Regions from separate parts of the Homo sapiens genome. Here region 1 is linked to region 2. Evidence: fine-mapped expression QTL. Tissue or cell type: whole blood. Region 2 holds a variant in brackets; the other region holds the start of a gene. All regions are shown on one strand. Distances are between the middles of the regions.

Evidence for each region. PIP is the estimated chance that this variant, and not a neighbour inherited with it, causes the effect.
Region 1: XG starts here. The variant in region 2 is fine-mapped to the expression of XG in whole blood (TOPMed, PIP 0.97).

Annotation. Positions count from the first base shown.
Region 1 is chrX:2,747,218-2,755,333 of GRCh38, forward strand. XG (Xg glycoprotein (Xg blood group)) reads left to right here and starts at 4,823. Exons shown (of 11, transcript NM_001141919.2): 1 at 4,823-5,118. The coding sequence starts at 5,058.
Region 2 is chrX:2,799,474-2,807,473 of GRCh38, forward strand. It overlaps XG (Xg glycoprotein (Xg blood group)), which reads left to right. Exons shown (of 11, transcript NM_001141919.2): 8 at 7,228-7,272. Among named protein-coding and RNA genes, the nearest start is that of GYG2, 25 kb to the right of the region's middle. RefSeq lists enhancers at 1-784, 785-1,726, 3,708-4,373, 4,374-5,038, 4,931-6,130 and 1 more. The variant A/G (reference allele first, on the strand shown) is at 3,188.

The sequences.
Region 1 (8,116 bases), 52 kb before region 2:
TCAGCCTCCCAAGTAGCTGGGATTACAGGCACATGCCACCACACCCGGCTAATTTTTGTATTTGTAGTAGAAATGTGGTTTCACCATGTTGGCCAGGCTGGTCTCAAACTCCTGACCTCAGGTGATCCATCCGCCTCGGCCTCCTAAAGTGCTGGGATCGCAGGTGTGAGCCATCATGCGTGGCCTAGAATATTCTTATTTCCAATTTTACAGCAACAGAATGTCTTCTGTCTTGTTTCTACTTTAAAAAAACAGTTTGCTAAAGCTTTCTTTGTAGTGCAGTTGTGAATTTTCAGGAGCATCCCATGAACATTGAAAAGGAGATGCATTCACGCTTTTTAAGGTTATCGAGGATGTGAAAATTAAAGTCGGCTTTGTAAATTCTGCCATGTCTGTGAGCTCCCAGCATTTGATCAGCTGAGGCTTCGAGCGGTGAAGTAGAGTGCTTTTCCCCTAACGTGCTCTGATCTGGAGCCTGCGTGTATTACCGCTGGGCACACGGCCTGCCCTGACCATACTTTAGTGAAGCAGAGGTGATAAAACTGGGTTTCCCAGGACTCCTGCAACACACAGCTTTGATGTCGGCAAACTAGAACCCGGGAGCCAAATCTGCCCACGGTGTGTTTTTGTACAGCTTTCGAGGTAAGAATTTTTTTGTATTATTGTCGTTATCGTTGTTTTGAGATGGCGTCTTACTCCGTCGCCCAGGCTGGAGTCCAGTGGCATGATCTCGGCTCACTGCAACCTCCGCCCCTGGGTTCAAGCGATTCTCCTGCCTCAGCCACCTGAGCAGCTGGGACTACAGGCATGCACCACTACGCCCGGCTACTTTTTGTATTTTCAGTAGAGACAGGGTTTCACCATGTTGGCCAGGTTGGTCTCGAACTCCTGGCCTCAAGTGATCTGCCTGCCTCTGGCTCTCAAAGTCCTGGGATTACAGACATGAGCCACGGTGCCCAGCCAAGAATGGTTTTTACATGTCTGAATAATTTTCAAAACTCCAAAGAACAATAATATTTTGTGATGCATGAAAATTATGTGACACTCAAGTTTTTATGTTCATAAAGTCCACTTGGCGCACAGACATTGGTTACATATTGCAGCAGAATCCATATGGTTTGCAAAGATAAATGCCTTTACTATCTGACCTTCTGCAGAAAAGCTTGTCTACTCTTGCCTCAAGAAGCATGTAAAATACTTACAACACTGGCACGTTAGGCATGCTGGAAATCGTAGCAATTATTTTGCACCTTCACTACATCTGAGAGGATTTCCTGAACTTAACCATTTAACCTAACTCCTCACTACCTTTTGGGAAACATTTTTTTTATTAAGGTGAAATTCACAAATCATAGAATTAACCTTTTTTTTTTTTTTGACCCGGAGTCTCTGTCACCCAGGCTGGCGTGATCTCATCTCACTGCAACCTCTGCTTACCGGGTTCAGGCAATTCTCGTGCCTCAGCCTGCCAAGTAGTTGGGATTACAGGCAGTCACCACCACATCTGGCTAATTTTTGTATTTTTAGTAGAGATGGGTTGCATCATGTTGGCCAGGCTGGTCTTGAACTCCTGACCTTAGGTGATCCACCCGCCTCAGCCTCCCAAAGTGCTGGGATGACAGGAGAATTCACCATTTTAAAGTGAACAATTCAGGTTGCTTGCTGCTTTCACAGTGTTTTGTGGCCACCACTTCTACCTAGTTCCAAGATATTTTCACTGCCCCCAAAAGAAATCCCATTAGCAGCTGTTTTTTATATTGGCTTCCTGGGGCTGTCATAAAAACATGCTTCAAACTAGGTAGGGGGCTTAAAAAACAGACAGTTAAGCTGTCACAGTTCTGGAGCATAGAGGTCTGAAATCAAGGAGCAAACAGGGTGGATTCCTCCCTCCGTCCCTCCTTCCCTCCCTCCCTCCCTCCCTCCCTCCCTCCCTCCCTCCCTCCCTTCCTGCCTTCCCTCCTTCCTTCCTTTCTCTTTCTTCCTTTCCTTACCTTTCCCCTTTCCCTCCCTCCCTCCCTCCCTTCCTTCCTTCCTTCCCTCCTTCCTTCCTTCCTTCCTTCCTTTCCTCCTCCTCCTTCTTCTTTCTTTCTTTCTTCCTTTCTTTCTTCTTTCTCTTTCTTCTCTCTCTCTCGCTCTCTCTCTCTTTCTGAGTCTCACTCTGTTTCTGTTGCCCAGTCTGTAGTGCGGTGGCACAATCTTGGCTCACTGCAACCTCTGCCTCCCGGGTTCAAGCAATTCTCCTGCCTCAGCTTCCCAAGTAGCTGGGATTACAGGCGCGCACCATCGTGCCTAGTTAATTTTTGTATTTTTAGTAGAAACGGGATTTCACCATGTTGGCCAGGCTGGTCTCGAACTACTAATCTCCAGTGATCCGCTCACCTCAGCCACCCAAAGTGCTGGGATTACAGACGTGAGCCACCGGGCCCAGCCAGCAGGGCTGATTTCTTCTGATGCTGTGAGGTAGAATGGATTCCATGCCCCTCCCATTGCGTCCAGTGGTTTGCTGCCAATATCCCTTGGCTTGTAGGTGCATCACCCCAATCTCCCACTTCATGTTCCCAAGGCCTTCTCCCTGTGTGCATGTCAGTGTCCAGATTTCTCTCTTCTTTTAAAATACCAATCATATTGCAGTATGACCTCATCTTAACTAATGATTAGGTTGGTGCAAAAGTAATTGCAGTTTTCACCTTCAAAAGTAATGGCGAGGAGCTGGGCACGCTACCTCACGCCTGTAATCTCAGCACTTCGAGAGGCCGAGGTGGGCGGATCACAAGGTCAGGAGTTCGAGACCAGCCTGGCCAACATGGTGAAACCCCGTCTCTACTAAAAATGCAAAAATTAACCAGGTGTGGTGGTGCATGCCTGTAATTCCAGCTACTCAGGAGGCTGAGGCAGAAGAATCACTTGAGCTCAGGAGGCAGAAGTTGCAGTGAGCTGACATCACGCCACTGCATTCCAGCCTGGGTGACAGAGCAAGCCTGTGTCTCAAAAAAAAAAAAAAAATTAATGGTGAAAACTGCAATTACTTTTGCACCAAAGTAATACATCTGCAAAGATCTTATCTCCAAAGAAAGTCACATTCTGAAGTACTGAAGGGTTGGGCTTCAATATATGAAGTTTGCGGGAGAAAAAATGCAACTCATAATATATCCATTCCCACGTCTTTCCAGCCCCTGGCAACCGGCAATGTGCTTTCTGTCTCTGCAGATTTGCCTGTTCTGGACATTTCAGAGAAATGGAATCCTACACAATGCGTTCTTCTGTGTCTGTTTTCTCTAACTCAGCATCCAGTTTTTGACGTCCATCCACTTTGTAGCAGATGTCACGGTGTCAGTCCTCTTTAGGGTCAGGGGACTTTGAAGGAAATATCTTTCTAAATGCATCAACTGCTTCCTGGACTCTGCCACTCAGAGCTTAGGACTGCACAAGCTAACTGCCTTAGAGCATTTCCCCCATATGCACACACACACACACATGAACACACATGCACACGCACACATGCACACGCACACACGCACACACACACAGACAGACACGTGCACACACACACACACCTGTGTGCACAGGAACTTAATCCATCCAAGTAACTTACCTTTATAAAGATGTTGCAGTCCAGGCGCGATGGCTCACACCTGTAATCCCAGCACTTTGGGAAGCCGAGGCAGGTGGATCACTTGAGGTCAAGAGTTCAAGACCAGCCTGGCCAATGCAGTGAAACCCTGTATCTACTAAAAATACAGAAATTAGCCGGGTGTGGTGTCGGGTGCCTGTAATCCTAGCTACTCGGGTGGCTGAGGCAGGAGAATCACTTGAACCTGAGAGGCGGAGGTTGTAGTGAGTTGAGATCACACCACTGCACTCCAGCCTGGGCAACAGAGTGAGACTCTGTCTCAAAAAAAAAAAAGGAAGATATTTCATAGAAGACAACTCCCAAACACCAGGTCAACAACATGAACAGACTTAACACTCCAGATGCTCAAATTTGCAGAGAGAAAAGTCCAAGGTTTATTTCTCCTTTTGGGTCTGTTTGCCATGAATCCTGCTTCTCTGGGAATTTAGAAGCTGCCCTCATAACTAAGACTGATTTTCCCCTTTCTCCTGCAGTTAATCTATTTACCAGAGGACTTCAAAGCTGTTTGCAAATGGTAACTTTTTAAGTGCTTGCCTACTGCTTCATGGTAGGTAGAGTGTAAGGGTTAACCCACGAGTTGTATATGGATAAATTAGACACACTCACAGATCTGCAGGGAAGAATATAATTAAAACCATTGTGAAAGCAGGAGTCATCATCGAACTCAGCTATCCAGTCATGTTTCTTCTCCAAGGAGATTTCAAACAGAAGATGTAAATTTTGGTAGTTACATAAAATGTCTCAGATTTAAATGAAAGACACAAAAAGCCACATATCTCCTTTTCCTGAACAACCGTCTCTGCTGAAATATTAGTTCTGCCACCTACAAAGACAACTGAAGGCTGAGGATAAAAAATGCCTCTTGGAAGTCACTGAGTTTGTTAGGTATAAAAGCCAAGACTTCAACTGAGGTCTTTGCACTGATGTGTACATTAACCCCACACTGGGTATCACTGTACAATCATGTCCTGCAGGAGGAAGATTACAGGCGGCCAGTGTCTTCTCTGGTTTCTGGGTTGGTGACTTTGAACTTGCTACAGCTCCCACACCCGCAGCGAGCAGAGTTGCCAAGCAAGTGTGCCGGCTTCCAGAAGCCTGAGATGCCCATTGGTGCTTGGGAACCACCCCAGTTTCCCCATCGTCTGTGCTGCTGCAGATTGGTTGGGGCAGCCCGGGGAGGCTGGCTCCGACACACGACTGAGTGTGCCTACACTGGTCCCACAGGTTTTCAGCTGTGGAGTTTGGGATCTGAGCTTGGAGCCCATTTGTTTCTGGCAGTTCCGCTCATATTTTCCACTTGAAGACATCGCCTCCCTTCCTTCCAAGCTGGGAGACCAGAAGTCAACAACAGGAGGGTGGAGAGGCCGGGTCTCACAATCCGCTTGGCTGGGGAGTCCACTGAGGTTCTTGCATCCTGAAGCAAACCATGGAGAGCTGGTGGGGACTTCCCTGTCTTGCGTTCCTGTGTTTTCTAATGCACGCCCGAGGTAAGAGGCATTTTGCTTTGAGGGAGATCTGCCTGGGCATGGATTTTTCTATTCTTGCTTTAAGAAACTCTTTCCAAAGGAGTTGCTATGAAGTGAATGGGGATAATTTGCCCAATGGGATTAGAAAGGAGACTAAGAGCGATGGGTGGCTGAGAGGGGAGGGAGAAGACGGGCTGCTCCCATTTGGAATCTGGGAATTAGATCCAGAAGGGCAGGATGTTAGCTGATACCATCTAGATATTCGCCATATTTTCCTGTTTTGATCCATGTGTCCCAAGCGTTTAAAAAATGACCTATTTAACTCCATGATTCAAGCATGACTGGGTGTGTGTGGAATGTCAGTCATTTCTTTCTGATTTTAAAAATTAGTTCTGACCATTTCCATACAGTAAAAGTAGAGTTGAAACTACTTCATCCCGTGGGGCAGATTACCAGAGATTCGTTTGCCGGAAGGGTTGCATTTATTCAGATTTTTAAATCTTTTCCTAAACACTGTCATTCATTCTTGCAAATTAAAACCACCTGAATTGTTCACATCAAAAACTTCGATATAAACTTGCAGGCTGGCTGTCCCAGATCCAAGATTAGATTTTTCAGTTCCGTACGAGGACCTCTTTAAGAAACTCCAATGAACTCATAAAGTACAGGATTTGAACAACGGTTGAGTAAGTTTCTTTGGTCATTTTCATGTGGCGATTTCAGAGAAGGGAACACCTGGGCGCATCTTAAGAGAGAGAAGTATTTCTGTTAGGAGTTAAAACACATCATTCAGATGTCCCTGTGGCAGCATTTCCTGTTTATCCTATTTAAAGACATGGACGTCATTAAGATTGGAGTTGGTTGTTTATGGGCGGAGGCGGTGTCGGGATGGATAGATCCTGGTGGACATAGTCTAGGATCTGCAGTGAGAATTTTTTATTATTCTGTGCTGTCTTCAGATCTCACCTAGTAAGTGGACAATGTGGCCATGCATTCATTAGCTTCTGTTTACAGGGAGATGTTCAACAGTAAACCCACCTCCCCAGAAAAGTACTTCCAGGAGTTTGTATCATTCACAGTAAGAGCCAAAGGTTAACCATATCCCCTTGGGCAAATCAACTTCTACAAAGTGCGGATACAGACAGTTCCCAACTTACCATGGTTTGACATGATGGTTCAATTTAAGATTTTTCAACTTTACAACGGTGTAAAATTGGTATGCATTCAGTACAAACGAAAACTGTACTTTGAGTACCCATACAACTTTTCTTTTTTTTTTTTGAGATGTCGTGTCGTTTCATTCTGTTGCCCAGGCTGGAGTGCAGTGACACAATCTGAGCTCACTGCAACCTCCACCTCCTACGTTCAAGCAATTCTCCTGCCTCAGCATCTCAAGTAGCTGGGATTATAGGTGCCCACCACCACACCCAGCTAATTTTTCTATTTTTAGTAGAGACTGGGTTTCACCATGTTGGCCAGGCTGGTCTTGAATCTTGACCTCTGGTGATCCACCGGCCTCCCAAAGTGCTGGGATTATAAATGTGAGCCACCATGCCCGGCCCCATACAGCCATTCTGTTTTTCACTTTCAGTACAATGTTCAATAAATTATGTGAGGTATGCAACACCTCATTATAAAGTTGACTGTGTGCTAGATGATTTGTCCATCCGTTGGCTGATGAAAAGTGTTCTGAGCACTCTGAAGGCAGGTAAGGCTAAGCTATGGCGTTTGGTAGGGTAGTTGTATTAAATGCACTTACAACATAAAATATTTTCTTTTTTTTAATGTGTTTTAATTTTTTTGAGGGAGGGGCCCACTGTGTCACCTAGACTGGAGTGCGGTGGTTCCATCATAGCTCACTGCAGTCTTCACCCCAGGGGTTCGAACAAACCTCCCACCTCAGCCTCCAGAGTAGCTGGGACTACAGGCATTTGCCGCTGTGCCTGACTAGTTTTTAAAACTTTTTGTAGAGACGGGATCTCACTATGTTGTCCAGGCTGGACTTGAACATCTCAGCTCAAACGATCCTCCTGCCTTGGCCTCCCCAAATCTTGAGATTACAGGCATCAGCCACCATACCCTGTCCTGCGCTAAATTCTTTGACTGACGGCAGCACTTCCTATGCACTAGGCATGGATTAACTTAGTTGATTGTCCCTCAGCCCTATGACGGGAGTGTCGTGCCTGATGTCATTTTACAGATGGTGTATTAGTCAGGGTTCTCTAGAGGGACAGAACTAATGCAATAGAAATATATATAGAGAGAGGAGTTTATTAAGTATTAACTCATATGATCACAAGGTCCCACAACAGGCCGTCTGCAGGCTGAGGAGCAAGGAGAGCCAGTCCAGGTTCCAAAACTGAAGAACTTGGAGTCTGATGTTCCAGCATCCACCATGGGAGAAAGATGTAGGCCAGAAGACTAGGCCAGTGTCTCTTTTCACATTTTTCTGCCTGCTTATATTCTAGCCACAGCGGCAGCTGATTAGATGGTGCCCACCCAAATTGAGGGTGGGTCCGCCCCTTCCAGTCCACTGACTCAAATGTTAATCTCCTTTGGCAACACCCTCACAGACACACCCAGGATCAATACTTTGTATCCTTCAATCCAATCAAGTTGACATTCAGTATTAACCGTCACAGATATGGGTAAACTGAGGCACTGAGGATTTGGACGGGGGCAGCCGGCAGCGGAATCTGAGCTGTCCTGTAGCTCTGTCTGGGAAGACTCCAGTGAGCATCCCGCTCTATCCCAAGCCTTGTCTTCTGAAAATCAGAATCATCCCTCCTCCAAGTGTTACAGGAAAGGGGTCCGGATCCAGACGCCAAGACGGGGTTCTTGGATCTCGCTCCATAAAGAATTCAGGGCTAGTCTGTAAACTGAAAACAAGTTTATTAGGAAAGTAAAGGAATAAAAGAATGGCTATTCCGCAGAGCAGCTCTTAGAGCTACTGCTTGCCCATTTTTATGGTTATTTCTTAGTGATATGCTAAGCAAGGCTTGGATTATTCATGCCTCCC
Region 2 (8,000 bases):
GCTCAGTGAATCTGTGTTTTTTTACATAAGATGGCATAGACAAATGGGGCAGAGGGAAAATGCAGGGAATCTGCATGTTGCATAAGATAATCTGGACAAAATGGGGCAGGGGAGCAATCACATATGATTTGTGTCTGCTGGGCGGGGGTGACTGCAAAGCTGTCGATTTGCATATTGTCATGGTGAAATCTTCACAGCTCACTAGGATTTTCCTTGTGGGCAAAATATGGGGGAGACGTGTAGCTTTTCATCTTGTAGCCATTTTATTTAGGAACCAAAAGGGGGAGGCAGGTTTGTGTGACCCAGTTCCCAGCTTGACTTTTCCCTTTGACTAAATGAGTTCAGGATCACAAAATTTAATTTCCTTTCACAATGCGTACTCCGTGTTTAGCTCCCACTTGTAAATGAGAACACATGGTATTTGGTTTTCTGTTCCTGCATTAGTTTGCTCAGGAGAATGGCCACCAGCTCGATCCATGTTGCTGCAAAGGACATGATCTTGTTCTTTTTTATGGCTGTGTATATGGGCCACATTGTATATGGGCCACATTTCCCTTATCCAGTCTACCATTGATGGGAACCTAGGCTGATTCCATGTCTTTACTATTTGAGTTTGCTATTTGTTGTTCTTTGCAGGAAGAATGTGGGCTCAGAGCATGGCCCCAAATAGGTGACGTTGGTAAAGCAGGTTTAACGGGTGGCAAGCCAGGTGATGAGAGGGAGACAGGAAGAGGCCTGCTTAGCAAGGGGGTCCTTGTTATGCAGATGAAGGTTCCCAGGTAGCAGCGCTCAGAGACGACCATGGTAAATGTTTCTTTTCAGACCTGTAAAGGTGTCAGAGTCTCCGTTTCTCTCTCCTACATCCAGGAAAAGCTTAGAAAGGGAAGGCCTGGCTGCAACAGCAAAGATCCTCTACAGATGCCAATTTCCCCACCTCAGTCTGCTGGCCCTGGAGCGGCAATTTCAAAATAAGGCAAAGCAATATATTTTGGAGTAAAATATTTTGATGTCCGTCATCTTCGTTACCTCGGAAGCGAGTGTTGTCATCAGATCCATTTAACAAAATGAAAGCAATGCATGACGCTCGACTGTCCACTTCAAAGGAGCAATAGCTGTGGCCCTATAGGTAGCCCATCCTCAGAACTCACTCCCTATGACACAGACAAGCTTCAGGATGGGAGGGGGCTCATGACAAAGTGCTCATTACCTGGGGTCAAGAACTGTCTACTTTTGGCCGGGCATGGTGGCCCACGCCTGTAATCCCAGCACTTTAGGAGGCCAAGGTGGGTGGATCCCTTGAGTTCAGGAGTTCAAGACCAGCCTGGGCAAAATAGTGAAACCCTGTCTCTACAAGAAAATACAAAAATTAGCTGGGCATGGAAGTGTGCGCCTGTGGTCCCAGCTACTCGGGAGGTGTAAGTGACCCTGGAAGTTTGAGGCTGCAGTGAACCGTGATAGCACCACTACCTTCCAGCCTGGGCCATGGAGTGAGACCCTGTCTCAAAAAAAAAAAAAAAAAAAAAAAGGACACTAAAAAAGAATTGACCACCTTCAACTCAACGTACTATGAGATGAGTTCCTTCCACCATCTTTCTGGAACTAGCTAAGGGGTTCCCCTTACCTACTACCTAGGTAGACCTGATTTATTAAGACGGGAATCGCAATAGAGAAAGAGTTTAATTCACACAGAGCTGACTGAACGGGAGCATGTGAAGCAGCTATGCTGTCTGGGGTACATACCTGGGGTTCATTGTTGCACGCTGAGAAAGAATTCAGGACACAGACACATGTGGTTGGGTTAAGGAGTTGAAAGTTTAATAGAAGAAAGGAGAGAGGAGAGCAGCTCCTTGCAAGAGAGAGAGGGAGAGAGAGAAAGAGAGAGAGAGAAAGAGAAGCATCTGAAAAAGTTGGGAGGTTGTGGACCGCAGCAGCTTTTGTAGGCAGGCTGGAGGAGGTGGTGTCTGATTTACATAGGGCTTACAGACTGGTTCGATCAGGTATGACTTCTACATAGTGCGTGGGGAAGGCTGGTGGCCCCACCCTAATTTTGTTATGTAAATGGGCTTTCCAGTTGGTCAGTGCCATCTTGTCTGCTACTTACTGTACATGGGGCTGACAAAGAGGAGGGAAGATGAAGCTGCCATCTTGAACGTGTCTAGGCCCTAGTTCCTGCCGGCATTCACCCATGTAAGCTCCTAGCTGGCTTGTCTATGTCTGCAGCTCAACTTTATTTTTTATTTTTTATTTTTTTTTGAGACGGAGTCTCGCTCTGTCGCCCAGGCTGGAGTGCAGTGGCGTCATCTCGGCTCACTGCAAGCTCCGCCTCCCGGGTTCACGCCATTCTCCTGCCTCAGCCTCCCGAGTAGCTGGGACTACAGGCGCCCGCCACCACGCCTGGCAATTTTTTCTATTTTTAGTAGAGACGGGGTTTCACCGTGTTAGCCAGGATGATCTCGATCTCCTGACCTCGTGATCCGCCCGCCTCGGCCTCCCAAAGTGCTGGGATTACAGGCGTGAGCCACCGCGCCCGGCCACAGCTCAACTTTACAGGCTGCTCTTTGTTAGAAAATGATTTGGGGCTGCTTTTCATTAAAAAGAAAAGCCTTACCAAGGACTCCCATACCCTTGCTATGTGCCTAAGTAATTAACTAATTCCTTCTTAACTCCTATATCAACTGGAGGTTTTGCTTTTTTTTCTTTAAACAGGGTTTCATTTTGTTACCCAGGCTGGACTGCAGTGGTGAAATCATAGCTCACTGCAGCCTCAACCTCTTGGGCTCAAGCGATCCTCCCGCCTCAGCCTCCTGTGTAGCTAGGACCACAGGTGTATGCCACCACACCTGCCTAATTTTTAAAAAATTTTTGTAGAGATGGGGTCTCACTATATTGCTCAGGCTGGTCTTCAACTCCTGGCCTCAAGTGTTTCTCCGACCTCAGCCTCCCAAAGAGCTGGGATTACGGGCATGAGCCACTGCACCTAGCCAAGACTGGAGTTTTATGACTCAAATCAGCTTCCCCCAAAATTTGGACACTGGGCTTTTTAACGTGTAATTTGGCTGGTAGGAGACCCGGGCGTGGGGAGTGCTGAGTGGTTGGTTGGAGGTGGAATGACAGAGGACGGACATGGGTTCTTTTTGTTGTCTTCTGTTCTTGTGTGGGACGGCAGAGCTCGCTGAGCCGCATTACC[A/G]GTCTGGGTGGCGCCGGCTGGTGCATCTCAATGAAGGGTTTAAAAAATGTCTCAACTTCAACCTTAGGTTTTACAATAGTGATGCCATCCCTAGGAGCAACTGAAGAGGTTTGGAATCTTGTGGCCTCCGGCTGCATGGCTCCTAACCTATTAATATAATTTCTAATCTTGTGACTAATTTGTTAGTCTTTCAAAGGCAGTCTGATCCCCGGGGAAGAAGGGAGTTTGTTTCAGAAAAGGGCTGTTATCTTTGTTTGAATGTTAAGCTGGAACTTCCTCCTATGGTTATCTGAGTCTGTGTTCAGGAATGAACTAGGGCTGTTCGAGGGCTACAGGCACGATGCAGTCGGTTAGGTCAGATCTCTTTCACTGTCGTAATTTTCTCACTGTTATAATTTTTGCAAAGGCGGTTTCAATTTAACTGAAAATGTCAGGCAAAGACCAAATTTAATATTTTTACAGAAAGCCACTGGGAGTAGTTTTTTATTGTTTTATTATTTATTTATTTAGAGACAGAGTCTCACTCTGTTGCCCAGGCTGGAGTGCAGTGGTGCAATCATAGCTCACTGCAGCCTCAAACTCCTGGGCTCAAGCGATCCTCCCACCTCAGCCTCCCGAGGAGCTGGGGCTACAGGCACACACCATCATACCCAGCTAAATTTTTAAGAAATTTTTTGTAGAGATGGGGTCTCACCGTTGTAACTGCCCAATGGGTTTACCTTGCCCCCTGCCTAAACAGGGCCGATTTATCAAGACAGAGGAATTGTAATGGAGAAAGAGTAATTCATGCAGAGCCAGCTGTGCCCGAGACCAGAGTTTTATTATTACTCAAATCAGTCTCCCCAGGCATTCAGGGTCCAGAGTTTTTAAAGATAATTTGGCGGGTAGGGGCTTGGGAAGTGGGGAGGGCTGATTGGTCAGGTTGCAGAGGGAACCATAGGGGGGTGAAGTGAGGTTTTCTTGCTGTTTTCTGTTCCTGGGTGGATGGCGGAACTGGTTGAGCCAGATTACCGGGCTGGCTGGTGTCAGCTGATCCATCCAGTGCAGAGGCTGCAAAATGTCTCAAACACCGCGCTTACGTTTTACAATAGTGATGTTACCCCCAGGAGCAATTTGCAGAGGTTCAGACTCTTGAGCCAGAGGCTGCACGACCCCTAAACCATAATTTTTCTTTTCTTTTCTTCTTTTTTTGTTTTTTTCGAGACAGAGTATCACTCTGTTGCCCAGGCTTGAGTGCAGTGGTGTGATCTCGGCTCACTGCATCCTCTGCCTCCCTGGTTCAAGCAATTCTCCTGCCTCAGCCTCCCCAGTAACTGGGACTACGGGCACATGTCACCATGCCCGGCTAATTTTCATATTTTTACCAGAGACGGGGTTTCACCATATTGTTCCGGCCGGTCTCGAACTCCTGACCTGAGGCGATCCACCCTCATCGGCCTCCCAAAGTGCTGGGATTATAGGCTTGAGCCACTGCGCCCAGCCCTAAACTATAATTTTTAATCTTGTAGCTAATTTGTTAGTCCTACAAAGTCCAACTGGTCCCCAGGCAAGAAGGAGGTGTTTTCAGGAAAAGGCTGTGATCAGTTTTGTTTCAGAGTGAAACCATGAACTGAATTCCTTCCCAAAGTTAGTTGGGCCTATGCCCAGGAATGAACAAGGACAGCTTAAGGGTTAGAAGCAAGATAGAGTCGGTTAGGTCTGGCCTCTTTCACTGTCATCATTTCCTCAGTTACAATTTTTGCAAAGGTGGTTTCGCCACGTTGCCCAGGCTGGTCTTGAACTGGGCTCAAGCGATCCTCCTACCTTGGCCTCCATAAGTGCTGGGATTACAGGCCTGCACCACCACATCCGGCCCACCTTGGAGCGTGTTATATAAAGCGAGCCGTCCCCACACCCCTACAGCCTACGAATGAGCCTTTTCACCCCATGCACGATTCTCTGAAACTGCTCTCTGTAAGGAGCTATTCGGGACACGTTCTTTTGTTCTCTGGCATACTCATCAGGTAGAAAGAAGTGATTCAGCAAGCGGCTCCCCTGAGAGCCCTGATCGTTTCCTGTTTTCCTGTGAAGTTAGTCTCGGGAGGTCTGCGCTGTGCCATTTTTGGGGGACCATTATCTGGCTCCCGAATGGATCAAAGCTTACTGGTCAGGGGGCTGCTGTATCCCTGGGGCAAAACTGCCAGAAAATAGCAGGTAGCCCTGTGGTCCTTGGCAGGGCCAGGGCCCGGTGGAAGCAGCAGCTGGGCCAAGAACATCAGGCGTGCATGAGGCACAGCCCAGTTTTGGGAGCATGACGCTTGTTTTCGAGGATGCCTGTGCTCCCCTTCCTGCCTGGACCCCTGCTCTCCAGCCCCGGCAGAGCGAGGCTGTGAGTCAGCGCTCGGATTAGCATCAGCATGGAGGTGCCGGCTGGGATGCAAGCCGCCGCCATGGGATGAGTCACGCGGCTTCTCCCCGAATCCCCAAAGGAGGCAGAGCGTGTTAGGCTTGTTCTGGCTTCATGCAGAGCACTGAGGGGTGAGGGCTGACCGTGGCTGGCCGCGGAGGGAAGCCCAAAGTCTGGCCTCCCTGCGGAGACTGGGGAGAAAATGTTGCGCTCGTCGTTTTTAAATACTGGGGGACAAGTTTCCCTTGTCTGCTAAGGCTGCCATTGTAAATTACAAGAGTCAGGAGGGCTGAAGCAAAAGGGATTTCTTCTCCCACAGTCCTGGAGGCTGGAAGTCTGAGATCAAGGTGTGAGCAGGGCTGGTTCCTCCTGAAGCCTCTCTCCTTGGCTCGTCGACATCATCATCTCCCTGTGTCCTCACAGGGTCGTCCCTCTGTGTGTGTCTGTGTTCCAATCTCCTCTCCTTATGAGGTGTCTTAGTCCATTTCAGGCTGCTATCACAGAATACTATAGACTGGGTGGCTTAGAAACAGCAGACATTGATTCTCTCACCGTCCTAGAGGCTGGAGGTCCAAGATCAAGGTGTGAGCAGGGCTGGTTCCTCCTGAGGCCTCCCTCCTTGGCTTGTAGACACCATCTTCTCCCTGTGTCCTCACAGGGTCGTCCCTCTGTGTGTGTCTGTGTCCTCATCTCCTCTTCTTATAAGGTCTGTAGTCCTATTGGATTAGGGCCCACCCTAGTGATCTCGTTTTATTTTAATCACCTCTCTAAGGACGTTGTGTTCAAATACAGTCACAGTCTGATGCCCTGGGGGTTAGGACTGCGACCTGTGAATTTGGAGGGGGATATAGTTCAGCCCATAGAACCCACTATCCACATAAGTCATTCCACTTCAAAATCAGCACAAAGCATTAGTTTTAAAAATCTCAAATCTGTATTTTTAAAAATTGCTCTTAACACATTAGAAAAATATAGAAAAACTTTTTTTGCTGTTTTTCTGAGACAAAATCTCACTCTGTAGCCCAGCCTGGAGTGCAGGGACGTGATCATAGATCATTGCAGCCTCCACCTCCTGGGCTCAAGCAATCTTTTGCCTCAGTCGTCTCCCAAGTAGTAGCTGAGACTACAGGTGCACATCACCACACCCAGCTATTTTTTTTTTTTAAGTAGAAACGGGGTCTCACTATGTTTCTCAGGCTGGGCTCCAAATGAGCTCAAGTGGTCTTACCGCCTTAGCCTCCCAAAGTGGTAGGATTACAGGTGGGAGCCACCACACCCAACCTGGAGGAACTCTTTTTTTTTAAAATTTTAAATAAATTACTATTTGTGGCCTGCGTTTTCATCCTATTCTCTTTTTTTTTAACCAACATTTGCTGGCATTTTTTTTTATGCCGAAGAAAACACCTTTGCCCATCTATGTCAGGCCTCCAGACCCTCAGGGATGTACATCTAATGCACCTTCAGCCACCGGTGTAAACAGTAAACAGGGGCCAGATGGCGCCTGTGCACCTTCCCTGGCCTTGGGAGAGCATTGGAATCTCTGCAGCTTTTAAGAGCATCTTGCTTCAGGTTTGCTGACCTGCTTGCTTCTGTAAGATCATGCAGACTTCCTGAGCAATATCTAGCATTTCATGGTCTCTTTTCTATCCTGCAGGAAGAGGGGGCTATAGACTCAACTCTCGTTATGGAAATACTTATGGTAAAGGAATTATGTCTTACAGAATATGTGAGGCAAAACTGTCCATTTGCAAATAACTAACACACTGTCTGCACTGATGGGAAGCTGATGCTTTCATCCAGTGCACAACCAACTGGCCGTTCGAGTCTCTCATTTGCATTTTCCTTGGTCATCCATGCTGGGGGGAGATGTTGTGCATGCCCTGAGGACTTCATTTCTTCAAAGGAACTATGGCCCACTTACAGGTGTTACTGGGTGCATGTGTGTGCACGTGTGTGTGTATACATATGTGTTCACACACAGGTATGCTTGTGTGTATTGTGTGTGCATGCATGTGTACATGTGCATGTGGATTTTGTAATCATGTGCATAAGTGCATGTGGATTTCATGTGCATGTGTGCAAGTGTCTGTGCACACATGTGGATTGAGCACATGCATGTTTGTGTATGTGCACAGATGTGTTGGCATGTACTTGTGGATTTTGCATGTGTGCATGCTTGTGCTTGGGTTGCATGTGCATTGCATGTTTCCCATGTGTGTCCATTCACATGCATACATTTAGGGGTGTGCAAGCACATGTGTGCATGTGGATAGATGCAGGAGTGTGCATCTGGGTGTGCTCGTGTGGTATGTGCATACTGCACGAATATATCATGTGCATCTGTGCATGTGGATTGTGTGTATACATGCGTGTGTACAGGCATGCACACACACACATGAATGTGTTTGTGTGTGCATATTTGTGTGT